Linked DNA regions of Homo sapiens. The protein of the gene in region 2 purifies or fractionates together with the protein of the main gene of each other region. This does not show direct contact. Each region holds a gene or a part of one and is shown on either strand. Other genes may lie near its edges.

Evidence for each region. Proteins that work in one complex are often made in the same cells at the same time.
Region 1: the proteins of ARHGEF35 (region 2) and ALAD purify together in Homo sapiens (co-immunoprecipitation; 3 studies listed by BioGRID and IntAct, with this or other methods). This does not show direct contact.

The regions. Positions count from the first base shown.
Region 1 is NC_000009.12:113,391,275-113,398,301, reverse strand, and holds part of ALAD (delta-aminolevulinic acid dehydratase), read left to right. Parts: exon of another isoform or gene 1-224; intron 225-1,027; exon of another isoform or gene 1,028-1,256; intron 1,257-1,846; exon of another isoform or gene 1,847-2,844; coding exon of another isoform or gene 2,845-2,895; intron 2,896-4,664; exon of another isoform or gene 4,665-4,667; coding exon of another isoform or gene 4,668-4,742; coding exon 4,743-4,855; intron 4,856-5,966; coding exon of another isoform or gene 5,967-6,132; coding exon 6,133-6,183; intron 6,184-6,678; coding exon 6,679-6,775; intron 6,776-7,027.
Region 2 is NC_000007.14:144,192,816-144,199,914, reverse strand, and holds the start of ARHGEF35 (rho guanine nucleotide exchange factor 35), read left to right. Parts: upstream 1-4,081; 5' UTR 4,082-4,377; exon of another isoform or gene 4,378-4,594; intron 4,595-7,099.

The sequences.
Region 1 (7,027 bases), on a different chromosome or scaffold from region 2:
TCTAGAATGGCATTAAGCAAGTCACTGAACCGCTCAGAGCCTCTGTTTCCTTATCACTAAAAGTTAGGACAATTCTTGCAATGAAATGAGATACTACTACCAAGTACTTCAGTGCTGTGCCCAGCACAGAACGAATACACTCAGTATGTTTTTCTTTTGTTTCTTCTGTCTCTCCAGCACCCAAAGCAGAAACAGTATGGGCAGAGAGACGCCTACTGAATCAGGTGTTTATCAGTATTATGAAATACAGTATATAAAACCCAGCATTTGGAGTCCAGAACAAATTCAAATTCTGGCTCAGTCACTAAGTAGCTATGTGGTCTTGGGCAACTGGCTTACATTTTGGTAATTCTCTCAATATGCAAAAATATTCTCTCGGCCAGGTGCGGTGGCTCACGCCTGTAATCCCAGCACTTTGGGAGGCAGAGGCGGGCGGATCACTTGAAGTCAGGAGTTTGAGACCAGCCTGGCCAACATGGCGAAACCCTGTCTCTACTAAAAATACAAAAATTAGCCAAGCATGGTCATGCATGCCTGTAGTCCCATCTATTTGGGAGGCTGAGGCAGGAGAATCACTTGAACCCAGGAGGTGGAGGTTGCAGTGAGCCGAGATCGAACCACTGCACTCCAGCTTGGGTGACAGAGCCAGACTCTGTCTCAAAAAAAAAAAAAAAAAAAAAAGAAAAGGAAAAAAAACTCCTGGCAGACATGAGAGCAAAATCGAGTACGAAATGGGCAGCTGGGACCTCATATCTACTGAATAATTGTCTGTTTGGAGGTTGAGACATGACTGGGGAGGCCTGGCCTGCCCCTGTGTTAGGTGATGGGGCTGGCCCACCCAGGGGTGTGGCAGCAGGGCTGGCCCCTGTGTGACTTGTGATAACCCCACCCTACCAAGGAGGAAGACTGGATAAAATGGGCCCCTGAGATGGCTGAAGGCAGCTAAAGGGGCCTAAGAGACTATGGGGAGAAGGGCAGCCAGTTCCTAGGCAGCCCTGCCCCACTGTTTCTGATAAGCAGGAGGCAGTTGTTCCCTCAGCCTCCTGAAAGCAATGAGGAGTTGAGGCCACGGGAATGCAGCTTTGGATTCCAGAAGCCAAGGACCTGTTACAAAGGTGGTTTTCTGGGAAGCAAATTAGAGGGATTAGACCTGGCTTCGACATCTGACTTGACTCCAACCTACCAAAGGATCTCCCAGTTCACCTGGGAGTTAACACACCAGGGTTCTAGTCCTTTTGCTCGCTGTGTGGCTTTGGGTAAGTCCTTGCCCCTCTCTGGACCTTGAGGTCCCATTCATACAAAAAGCAGTTGGACTCAGGCCTGCCAGCCCCCATTTTTGTGGCTCTTCCCCGCCCCTCCCCATCCTTTGGCTATGGGATAGTCTCCCAGGCACCTCCAAAAGGAAGTGTCTAAAACAGAGCTCTCCACCTCCTCTCCAAGCCCAGCTCCCCACTGCCCTCTTCCTGCCCTGTCCCTGTCTCCGCTGCCCTTTAGATCAGGCAGGCAGGCAGGCCTAGAGCATCCGCCCTGAGACACTGCCTGTTGGCTGCCTTAAGACGCCCCTTCCTTCTCTGCCCGCAGCCTCCCCAGCCTCTGCATTCCTCTGCTTCCTGTCTGCTCTGCTCAGCCTGCAGGATTGATCTTCCCAAAGCCAGGTGTCAACCAGGCCACTAACCCTACCCACTGCTCAGAAATCTTCCCACAGCCTCAGCCTGGCCCCCTCTTATCCATCCCCTCCATACACACTTGCCTCAGCTCCTCAAAACAGTCCACAGCCATCCTCCTTCCCCACCTTTGCCCCTTTCTTCCCTTCCTAAGGAAATATTGGCCCCCTTCTCTCCACCAGGCTGAACCCACTCATCCTGCAAAACCAAGTTCAACGCCCTGTCATTTTCTTTTTTTTTTTTTTTTTTGAGATGGAGTCTCACACTGTCGCCCAGGCTAGAGTGCAATGGGTGCACTCTCGGCTCACTGCAACCTCTGCCTCCTAGGTTCAATCGATTCTTCTGCCTCAGCCTCCAGAGGAACTCTGACTACAGGTGCACACCACCACACCCAGCTAATTTTTGTATTTTTATTTTTATTTCTATTTATTTATTTATTGTGAGATGGAGTTTCTCTCTTGTTGCCCATGCTGGAGTGCAATGGCACGATCTCGGCTCATTGCAACCTCCGCCTCCCAAGTTCAAAGGATTCTCCTATCTCAGCTTCTGAAGTAGCTGGGATTACAGGCATGTGCCACCACACCCGGCTAATTTTTTTTTATTTTTAGTAGAGATGGGGTTTCACCATGTTGGTCAGGCTGGTCTCAAACTCCTGACCTCAAGTGATCCACCCACCTCGGCCTCCCAAAGTGCTGGGATTACAGGCGTGAGCCACCGTGCCTGGCCTAATTTTTGTATTTTTAGTAGAGACGGAGTTTCACCACATTGGCCAGCCTGGTCTCAAACTCCAGACCTCAAGTGATCCACCCGCCTCAGCCTCCCAAAGTGCTGGGGTTACAGGTGTGAGCCACTACGCCTGGCGCCTGTCTTCTTCTAATATGCCTCTTCTGACCTCCTCACTCCCATTGGAGCCATGGCTCACTTCTGGTCAGGCTCCATGCACTCAATCAGCCCTGCCTGCCAGGACTGTAGTGCCCACTTGATGAGAAATCACCTGTGAAAATGCCAGGCATGGTCTGGCACACAGTAGGTGCTCAAGAAACAAATGTTAATGCCCCAGCTTCCTTCTGTCTTGTGTCCACTAATTTGGCATTTGGAGCATATTTTTGTACTTCACGTAATTAAATATTTACTGTGTGCCAAGGTCAGTGTGTGACAGAGCACTGTAGGGGAGGCAAAAATGAACCAACTCTGGACCTTGCCCTGCAGAAGCTCTGTCTACTGGCATGAGGTAAGACAGGTCCACAGATAACTTACATAAGAGAGACTGCAATCTGGACAAGACAGCCTCAGTGGGAGAGGGAAGGAGAACCCTGTAGATTTGGGTGCGGGGAGGCTGTGGGGAGAGCACAGCCTTTCAGGTAAAGGGACAAGGTTAGGAAAGCAAGAAGGTGTAGCTTGTGCTCGTGGAGCCCAGGAAACTCCTTGGGCTAGAAAAGATTTGGTGGCACTCTATACAGTGTATGTGTCTGTCTGTCTATCTAACATGAATGGTACTATTTTCTCCTATTGGTGTGCATTGTACCTAACAAAAAATCCATGTCCCAAGTACTTTTCTCTTTTCTTTCTTTCTTTTTTTTTTTGGAATGAAGTCTTGCTCTGTCGCCCAGGCTGGAGTGAAGTGGCGCTATCTCGGCTTACTGCAACCTCCTCCTCCTGGATTCAAGCAGTTCTCCTGCCTCAGCCTCCCCAGTAGCTGGGATTACAGGCACGCACCACCACGCCCAGCTAATTTTTTTTGTATTTTTAGTAGAGGTGGGGTTTAACTGTGTTGGCCAGGCTGGTCTCGAACTCCTGACCTCAAGTGATCTGCCCATCTCAGCCTCCCAAAGTGCTGAGATTATAGGTGTGAGCCGCCATGCCCGGCCAACAGTACTTTTCTCTAGAGGTAGAATTGCAGGGGATTTTTCTCTTTTTGCTTATCTGCACTTTTCTAAAAGTTCTGCCATGAACACGGGCATTTTTTGTGGAATAAACAAAGTTTAAATGTTGGCTAGATCAGTGCTTCTTTATGCATAAGGAAGGATTAGTTCTTTTTTTTCTATTTCCAATTTATTGATTCTTTGATAAAATGCAATGCAATAAAATTATTATTTTTTTTTAGAGACGTCTCCCTCTCTCACCCAGGCTGGAGTGCAGTGGTGCAATCATAGCTTACTGCAACCTTGAACTCCTGGGCTCAAGCGATCCTCTTGCTTTAGCCTCCTGAGTAGCTGGGACTACAGGTGTGGACCACCACACCTGGCTGATTTTTAAACTTTTTGTAGATACAGGGTCTCGCCATGTTGCCCAGGCTGGTCTCGAACTCTTGGGCTCAAGCCATCCTGCCACCTCAGCCTCCCAAAGTGCCGGGATTACAGGCGTGAGCCACCATGCCCAGCTAGAAAATTACTTTTTTGGCTAGGCACCGTGGCTCACGCCTGTAATCCCGGCACTTTGGGAGGCTGAGGCAGGCAGATTGCTTGAGCCCAGGAGTTCGAGACCATCCTGGGAAGCATGGCAAGACCTCCATCTCTACAAAAAATTCGAAAATTAGCTGGATGTTGTGGTGCACACCTGCAGTCCCAGCTACTTGGGAGGCTGAGTTGGGAGAAACAGTTGAGCCCGGGAGGTCAAGGCTGCAGTGAGTCGAGATTGCACCACTGCACTCCAGCCTGGGCGACAGAGACCCTGTGTGAAAAAAAAAAAAAGAAGAGAATTTTTTTTAAACAGTCATTGCTTGCTCAGATGTTTACTTTAAAAGATAATAATGAACAAGAAGCAGTCACATAAAATACAAGCCCAAATTTTATATCATTAGATTCTGATTGTCATGAAAGTTTCTAAAGACTTACTTTCATTTCTCAACTTACCTTGTTGACCAGCAGGGATTGGTGAACCATGCTGTGAGTAGCATTGGGCTAGAGAGAGGGGAGGCAGGAATCTAGAAGAGCTGTTTTCCAGATGTGACCATCTCCTGAGGACAGGGACCATGTCTCATGTGCCACCCATCACCCCCCACAGACAGAGCCTGCAGCCAATGCCCCAGGAGCCCTCGGTTCCAACCAACTGATGCCCCTGTGCCCACTGGCCCACGCCATGCAGCCCCAGTCCGTTCTGCACAGCGGCTACTTCCACCCACTACTTCGGGCCTGGCAGACAGCCACCACCACCCTCAATGCCTCCAACCTCATCTACCCCATCTTTGTCACGTGAGTCTCCAAGAATGGGCCAGGCCTCTGCTCTGCTGGTTGGGGTTGGGGTTGGGGAGGGAGTGTTGACTGGAGCGGGCATCAGTATGGCTGGGGGTGGCAAAGTGAGCTGTCAGCTTGAAATTCAAGGCACTGGAAGCAGGCTACTTGGATTAAGGACAGGAATCTTAGGAACAAAACAAACTTTGAAAGAACTCATTCATCCCATTTGGAAAATTAGAAGAATAACCCTTGCCTGCCATCCTGAGCTCTTGCAGTAAGACAGAAGCTGAGAAGGTGCTCTGTACATTGTAAAGTGCTATGTACCTGTAAGAGATGGCAGTCATTGAGGCTGGGCACGGTGGCTCACGCCTGTAATCCCAGCACTTTGGGAGGCTGAGGCAGGCGGATCACGAGGTCAGGAGATCGAGACCATCCTGGCTAATATGGTGAAACCCTGTCTCTACTAAAAACACAAAGAAATTAGCCAGGCGTGGTGGCGGGTGCCTGTAGTCCCAGCTACTTGGGAGGCTGAGGCAGGAGAATGGCGTGAACCCGGGAGGCGGAGCTTGCAGTGAGCCGAGATTGCACCACTTCACTCCAGCCTGGGCGACGGAGCCAGACTCCATCTCAAAAAAAAAAAAAAAAAAAAGAGATGGCAATCGTGATTGTTAATAATAATGCAGACATTTACTGAGTACTTACTATCTACCAGGTACTATGCTAAGCACCTACACACATTATCTCATTCAATTCTGAGAGCATTTGTATGAAGAAGGAGTAGCTATCCTCTAGAACATCAGCTCCATGAGGGCAGGGATGTTTGTCTATTTTGTTCACTGTTGTATCATCAGGGCCTAGAACAGTACTTGGCACATAATAAGTACTCAATAAATATTTGTTGAATGAATGAATTAACCACGCATGATATAGATGAAGGCCTAAGGCTCAAAGAGATGATAGAACTTGGCCACGGTCACCCAGGCAGTAAGTGGCTGGGATAGAAAGCAAGGACCTGCCAAATTCAGAGTCCAAGTTCTTAACCACTTAATTCCTTCCTGTAATTACCGTTCTTTTAGTACAGTTGCTAGTGTTGTCACTGTTATTCTTGTTGTTCCTATTATTATTTCAGGCCCTGGGCTTGGCCAGGCAGGGAAGCCAGACACTGGATCCCATCCTCCTCCCACCATCTCCACTTCCATATTTCTTTCCTGCTTCCCAACCATCCCTCTCAGTCGCCCCCGCACCACTGGCCCTTCCCACAGCTACCAATCCATATCCCACCCCCGCTCTTGCAGGGATGTTCCTGATGACATACAGCCTATCACCAGCCTCCCAGGAGTGGCCAGGTAGGAGACGTGGAGTTGGGGGGCCAGCGGGTGGTGGAGGGAGAGATTCCACAGGTGGAAGTGCTGGGAGGCAGAAGCAGACCTAGGAAGTAGAAGATGCGGACAGACAGACATTAGCTCAGTAGAGGAAAGGGTTTCCCCGGGGCCAGAGCTGTTCCACAGTGGAAGGGGCAGCCCCATAAAGTAAAGAGCTACCCATCACCCGAGACGTCGTGGCAGAGGCTGTTGCAGAAGGGAGCTGAACTGCAGATGGGAGTTCAAAAAGAGGGCCTCGAAGGAGCCTTCCACAGCCGAATTCCGGAGCTCTGCTACTCAGGGCCTCAGTCTTCCCTCCTATTTAGTGGATGCATCCCTGCCCCTTCTGTCCTGGGGGCTTGAGCCCTCCTGGTGCCATATGCAGCTTGGTTTCTAACAGAGGCACACAGTGTGGTGGGGTCCGGAGGACCGTTGCCTGGGACCTGCCTTCCTTCAACCCCTCTACCCACACCCACACAGGTATGGTGTGAAGCGGCTGGAAGAGATGCTGAGGCCCTTGGTGGAAGAGGGCCTACGCTGTGTCTTGATCTTTGGCGTCCCCAGCAGAGTTCCCAAGGTGAAGAATCAAAGGAAGGGCTAAGAAGGGAGGTTGCGCTCACGCCCGTAATCCCAGCACTTTGGGAGGCCAAAGTGGGTGGATCACTTGAGCCCAGGATTTTGAGACCAGCCTGGACAACATGGCAAAACCCATCTCTACAAAAAATACAAAAGTTAGCTGGGTGTGGGGGTATGTGCCTGTAGTCCCAGCTACTCGGGAGGTGGAGAGGTGGGAGGATTGCTTGAGCCCAGAAAGTCGAGGCTGCAGTGA
Region 2 (7,099 bases):
ACTAAAAACACAAAATTAGCCAGGCTTGGTGGTGCGCACCTGTAATCCCAGCTACTGGGGAGGCTGAGGCAAGAGAATCACTTGAACCTAGGAGGCAGAGGTTGCAGTGAGCCTAGATCGTGCCACTGCACTCCAGCCTGGGCTGGACAGAGCAAGACTCCATCTCTGAAAAATAAAATAAAATAAAATAAAACAAAAAAACAGAATAGAAGAAGATAGCTAAGAACCACAGTGGTCAAGCCAGCCTGGCTTCAACAGAGATGAATGGAGAGACCACGGTCAGCCCCATTAACAGAAGAACTGGGGCCAGGAACGGTGGCTCATGCCTATAATCCCAGCACTTTGGGAGGCCGAGGCAGGCAGATCATGAGGTCAGGAGTTCGAGACCAGCCTGACCAATATGGTGAAACCCCATCTCTACTAAACATACAAAAATTAGCCGGGTGTGGCAGCACATGCCTGTCATCCCAGCTACTCAGGAGGCTGAGGCAGGAGAAACGCTTGAACCCAGGAGGCAGAGGTAGCCATGAGCCGAGATCACGCCATTGCACTCCAGCCTGGCGACAGAGCGAGACTCCATCTCAAAAAAAAGAAGAACTGAGTTCAAAATCAGTTCGAAAGGTTCAATGTTGGGTCACAGGATCAGGCAAAAAGCAGAGGCAGAAAGGCCTTAGGAGTGTTCCAAGAACTAGCACTGGACCAGCTGAGAGTCAGAGAGAGTTCACCACGTGGGAACAATGCAGCCAGTCATGTGGGATAGTGGCACCATGACAGTATCTAGTCAGGACAATGACAGCCCCAGGGATAATGCTGATGAGTTCCTGCTTCAAAAAAGGTCATTGTCATTCCTTTAGTCCTGATACCTAGAACTATACGGGATTGTTCCCTGCCTCTCCCCAAGCCCCATAACTTGATCTTAAAGGCATTATTGTCAATTAAAGTAGTCCCAAGTTCCAGAAGCTATTTTTATTCAGCCTCGTCTAATAGGGCTTTCATTTTAAAATAGCTTTATTTTGAATCTATTTACTGTTCCCAGCCCCTATCACTTTGTTCTTATAAATATATTCATTCCACATGCATCACTGACAGGCACTGCTAGGAAAGGAAACTAACCCATCTTGACCACCTTTACACATCAGGTACTTATACTAAGGTGATTTCTATATATTACAGTATTGAATCACCACAACAATCCAGTGACGTAGGTATCATTACATATTATTATCCCCAATTAAGACATTAGGGAAATGAAACGTAAGAAGATTCAGAGAAAGCACAGGAAGGTGAATATGCCCAAGATTTCACATTAAGTAAATGGAATGCAGGATTCAAATTTACCCCTGTCTGAATCTAAATCTCATTCTCTTTCCATGGCATCATTCTCTCTCCTCTCTAGGCCTTTATAGAGGAAATATAGGCCCAAATAAAATATCAAAATCTCAGGATGGGATGACAGGCTTGATTAAGAAACCCAGTCACCAAGACCACGCAGCAAGAAATGAAAAAGAAAAAAAATAATAAAATGCTGAGAACCATAGTCTGCAAAGTGAAAGGAAGAATACCTGGGAGAGCTAGAGTGACCTCCACATGCAAATACACCCTGCAGACAGGAACAGGCTTGATGGGAAGAGCAAACTCCCTAAATGGTCGGTTGTAACTTTCCTACTAGTTGAAAAGTCAGGAAAAGCCTTGTGTGCTAACTCTCTGGACAAGCGCACAAGAATCCAGGGTTGTGACTTCAAAAAAAAATATGCTGACAAGTCAGAGCTGGCAGAACAAGAGGAGGTCGAGTTGATGAGAAGAGAGAGAGAGAGAGAGAGCACTGTAATCAAGGAGAACCAACTGAAGCTGGAGGGAAGCAGAAAGAATAGCCAGGCTGGTTCAGGAGGCAGTTCTGGTACCTCTGACCCCATTGCCCACCCCCAGTAGGCAGCATGAAATATGCCAGAGGTCAACAATTTTTTTTTTTGTATTTTTTAGACAGAGTCTCACTCTGTCACCCAGGCTGGAGTGCAGTGGTGCAATCTCAGCTCACTGCAGCCTCTGCCTCCTGGGTTCAAGCAATTCTCCTGCCTCAGCCTCCCAAGTAGCTGGGAATACAGGTGCCCACCACCAAGCCCAGCTAATTTTTGTATTTTCAGTAGAGAAGGGGTTTCGCCATGTTTGGCCAGGCTGGCCTCAAATTCCTGAACTCAGGTGATCCACCGGCCAAGGCCTCCCAATGTGCTGGGATTGCAGTTGTGAGCCACCGCACCCGACCCAGAGGTCAACAGCTTCTGCCCTAGATCAGAAGTTTACTCACTTTGCTCACTCGGTATAAATCAAGGACCCTCTCATACCTGGGAATGAGTTTTGTATTCCAGCCTAGAAGTAGAGCCAGTCCCAGTTTGAACTTTTTGCCTTTCTGTACTCCCAGTTCTTACCCTTTTGCTGAGCCTAGGACACATGCAAGGCCTGCCCTTCTTAATCCAGATTTTTGAGTCTTAATCCCAATTTTTCCTATAGTTTCCCATACACTCCATGGCAGCTTAGAGTAGGCTGAAAACTGCTGAACTGTTTAAGACTTAATCCTTCAGAGTAACATGGCAGAAGTAGCACACTTTTTTAACATAAAGCTGTTCAGGACTCTATTACAGAAGAGGCTATACTTCCTTAATTACATTCTATTCTACAGCCACCTCAAAATAACTAGTGAACACGTTCAACCAGGATCATTGGCAACAGCCAATGGGCACAGTGATCTAGAAATGGTCTAGCCAAGCTGTTTGGGCTGTAGACCATGGCATTCCTAAGAGCTAAATAGGCAAGGAGTCCATTAATATTTCACTTGACTTATGTCACCATGGAAACCCCTGGAGTAGTGAATGGCTTTGGGGAGTGGTCAGATTCAACCAAAAATAACAGAAATCTCTGTCCCCCAGGTAAAGGATTCCTACTTTGTGTGTGTCTGTGTGTGCACACAGGCACACTCGAGAGACTTTTGGCATTCTTTGAAGTCACTGGAGGGGCACAGAGATAAACCCACTCAGCCTTGGCCTCCAAGACTAACAGAACAAAACGTTTCCCTGAAAGAATAAAAAAAAAATACAGGCATAAGAAAACACACAAACATGGGCTTAGAGATTTAAATACACACACACACACACACACACACACACACACACACAGGCCCTAGAAGGAACATACACCCTGAGATACGCACTCATTCTAAAATAAACTCGGGAATACAGAAGGACACGGGCATGTCCTTTCAGAGAGGCACACTTCTAGGCCCTAAGTAGGAGAAGGAAGAGGGGAGAGGAAGAGGCAGGGAGAGGGACAGGGAGGGGGGAGGAGGGAGGGAGAGAGAGAGAGAAACGAAGAAGGGGGCGGAGGAGGAGATGGAGGAGACACTCTTTATTCTATAGGAGGAGACATCACGGAAGAGAAATCAACACTGAGGCCTTGGCCGGGCGCGGTGGCTCACGCCTGTAATCCCAGCACTTTGGGAGGCCGAGGCGGGTGCATCACCTGAGGTCAGGAGTTTCCAGACCAGCCTGGCCAACATGGCGAAACCCGGCCTCTACTAAAAAATACAAAAATTAGCCGGGCATGGTGGCGCGGACCTGTAATCCCAGCTACTCGGGAGGCTGAGGCAGGAGAATCTCTTGAACCCGGAGACGGAGGTTGCAGTGAGCCGAGATCGCGCCATTGCACTCCAGCCTGGGCAACAGGGCGAGACTCCGTCTCAGAAAAAACAACAACAACAACAACAACGAACAAACCAAAAACCAATGAGGCCTGAAGATAAAGACACATGTACAACCACGGATGTCAGACTTCCAGAGGCACGGCCAAGGCAAAAGACAAACACATACAGACTGCAGCAGGCAGACAGGCCGGTTCCAGAGTCAGGCTCCGGTGAAGCTCCGAAGAAACAAACACGCAGGGAGATTTCGGAGGCGTCCGAGGACACCGTGGGGCCCGGCTGGCTCCCTCTGTCTCTGTGCGCGCCCCTTCCCCGGGTCACCCCGCCTGCGCCCGACCTGCGCCCGCGCACCGCGCCCTCGGGGCTCCCTGGGACAGCCCGCGGCCTGGCCCGTGCGCCCGGGCTCCCCTCTCCGCCGGCCCGGCACTTCCCAGCTCTGACGCGGGAGCTTCTTTCACACCAATGGGGCTCGCGCGCGGAGGGGCCCTGCCCCTCCTCCGGGAAGGTGTGTCCCTGTTTCCTCACCTGAAACTTCCTAGGAGAACCCGATCCCTCCCTCCCGTCGGGCGGCCAGGGGCGGGCCGCGGGTGGGGCGGCCGGGCCTGCGCTGGGGACGGCTCTGGGGACTGCGGCCGGCGCCGGGACCTGGAGGGGACGCTGGGGCCGAAGCAGCATGTGACACCGACCAGGTGGGTGCCCTCCTCCCGTCTCGGCCCTGGGCTCCCGGCGGCTGTGGAGCCCGGCGGAGGTGGGGCAGGGACAGGAAGGAAGAGGAAGCCAGGCCTTTCCCAGGGATCAGCCCCCGCTGGGTCCGGGGCGCAGGCTCCGGAAATGGGGGGGCTGGGCCCGCAGGCAGGGCTCGGGGTGTGTGGCTGAGGACCCTGGTGGGGAAGAGGAGAGGAACTAGAGGAAATGTTGTTGCCTACAAGTTTGCTTCCGGTCGGGTCCCGCCTAGGAAATGGGCACCCTGCCCCCAGACGTTCCCCGGGCCAATAATCAGGGCTCTTTCTTCAAAGTAGGCGCCCTGGGGAAAGCTAAGCCATATCAGAAGGAATAACTGAGATTCCCTTTCTAGGCTGTTCCTTACCTGGAGAGGTTTTATCGGCTCCTTTTCCTTAACCAGGCCGGGGCCTTTCCTTATGTATCTCCATAGGTATTTGCATACTGTGTGAGTCTATGTGTAGCTTCTCTCCGTGTTAACCAAAGCTCCGTAACCTGGAACAGTGAATCCTGCCCTGCCCCTCACCCCAGTTCCCTACATATGGGGAGCCTCCTAAAGCTTGATGTGAATCACAACGTTGCATTCTTAGCAAGGTGGAAAGAAGTTATTTAGAGTTGGGGGCTGAGGTAGGCGTTGGGGTGCTAGAATGCGGACGCAGAGCTCTAGAACCCCTGAGCATCTTTTGCAGTTGCCTTCCGGCAAGACTACCGGAGGAGAGCCAGTTGTGATACTACGTCATTTCCAGATCTCAGTCCCTTTCTTCCCTTCCTGGATCTTGGGTTCCAAAGACAGATTTGCCCTCCTGTCTACCTAGAAGTGAACTCTGGCCAGGACTCTTGTCTGGTTGAGAGAGAAGGGTGTGTCAAACAGATGAGAGAGGGTGGTTTTCCTTTCGAGCTTCCTCCCTAGCTTGCTCCCCTACTGCACTCCACTGTCTGGCCTTGCATCTTGGGCCTAATCCAGAGGTCCCAGCTCCAGCTAAAAAGCTCTTGATGTGGCCTCTGTCTCAGACGTCTTGTTTTATCCACATTTGGAGCATGAAGAAGTTCCTGGCATAGGCCTTAGCAAAATGGGTGTCATTTGTTAACCAATCTGTGGGCCTAAAAGTGAAGCCATGGCTAGTGAAGGAGTCCTGGGGAGCTGGGAAGATGGGATGAGGGCGTGTCAGTTCTGGGTGAGACTGATATGCAGGAGGAATGTATGTCATGGTCCTAGTGGGGAGGAGAGAGAAATCAGGAGGAGTGCAAAGGAATCCCTCTCATCAACAGAATATAGTGATTCTCAATAGAGAGAAGAGTGTTCATATATTAGAGGTCCTGAGAGTGTATCAGTGCCCTTAACGCGGTCTGTCTGAGGTTCCGTGGCCACGTTACACGTGGTGTCTGTGGGATAGACAGGAATACGTCATTTGTGGTGTCTGGAGAGGTCAGTCGCTATGTGGTATGGACAGGAATGGAGTCACTCGTAGGGTCTTGGGTTCAACGGGAGCAGCATTACTCAAGTGTCAGTGGTGTAGACAAACAGGTGACCAACAGCTCTAGTGTAGACAGGGGCTGGGTCACTCACAGTGTCTGTGGAGTAAGCAGGAGCCGATCACTTATAGTGCCTGCAAGGTAGACTGGAACAAAGTCACCCTCAAGGTCTATGTTAATACACAAACACGTCACTCACACTAATGTTATCTGTGTGGATGCCACCAGGACCACAGATGAGATTGTAGAGTGTAAGTCAGCATTGACACTAATAATGTTCTTATATAAACTATCTGGTCTATAAGGCAGTTGGTGTGACATTTTCAGACATTAGAGAATAGATAAATGTGTATTACAGCTTTCACTGGCATGGTGGGACTTTCCTGCAATGGATAGAACACACATTGTAGTAGTCAGTGGTCCAGAAAGCTACCCCTGTTTTGATATCTTTGTAGTATTGAGGGCAGTGATGTCAAACAGTGAATAAAGTTATATATCTATGTGGTGATCTTATTTTAACCTCAATATTATTTTAGTGATTTGTAAGTCAGAATATTTGAAATCAACCTTGCTAGAAAATCCAGGAAGCATGGTCCTCAAAAATATATATATGGCACTGAGTCTCAGTTCAAAGATTTGGCAGTTTGATTGGGGAGGGGTTGTATCCTTGAAATACAGTGTTGTTTCTAGTGACTAGAAATAGACAAGAGCTAAGGTGTTGGTGGGGGGGCTCTAGGGAAGATAGTGAGCTCTGTCACACATTATGTTAAAGGGATGACTTGAAGCTTTGCCTCTCAAGAAGTCACACGTGGGTGAGGTTATGTGGATGCAGAATGTCTGTGGTCTGAAGCAAGGCCGTATCCCCATAATCCCATGCCCTGGCTTTGCCTGTACACAGATAAACAGTGATTATTCACCCTCAGTGGAGAAGGAGATGAGGATGTTTGCACTCTAACGTAATGAGCATTGCAAAAAACTCTCTCCTGATGCCTTTACGTGAGTAAGACCATGATTTACAGATTTCCTTTCACTTTGTCACATTTTAGCTTTGTCATGCCTGATTGCAACGGGATCACTGAGATAGGATCAAGTATAGGGAACGTGGGGTATGTTCTCCCTTTGCGGTAACTGGTGGCTGAGCAGGTGACCACTGATATTTCCAAATGAAAAAAGACAGTTAGAAACGGTGTCAATGGGCTTGCAGAGGCAGGCATGCAC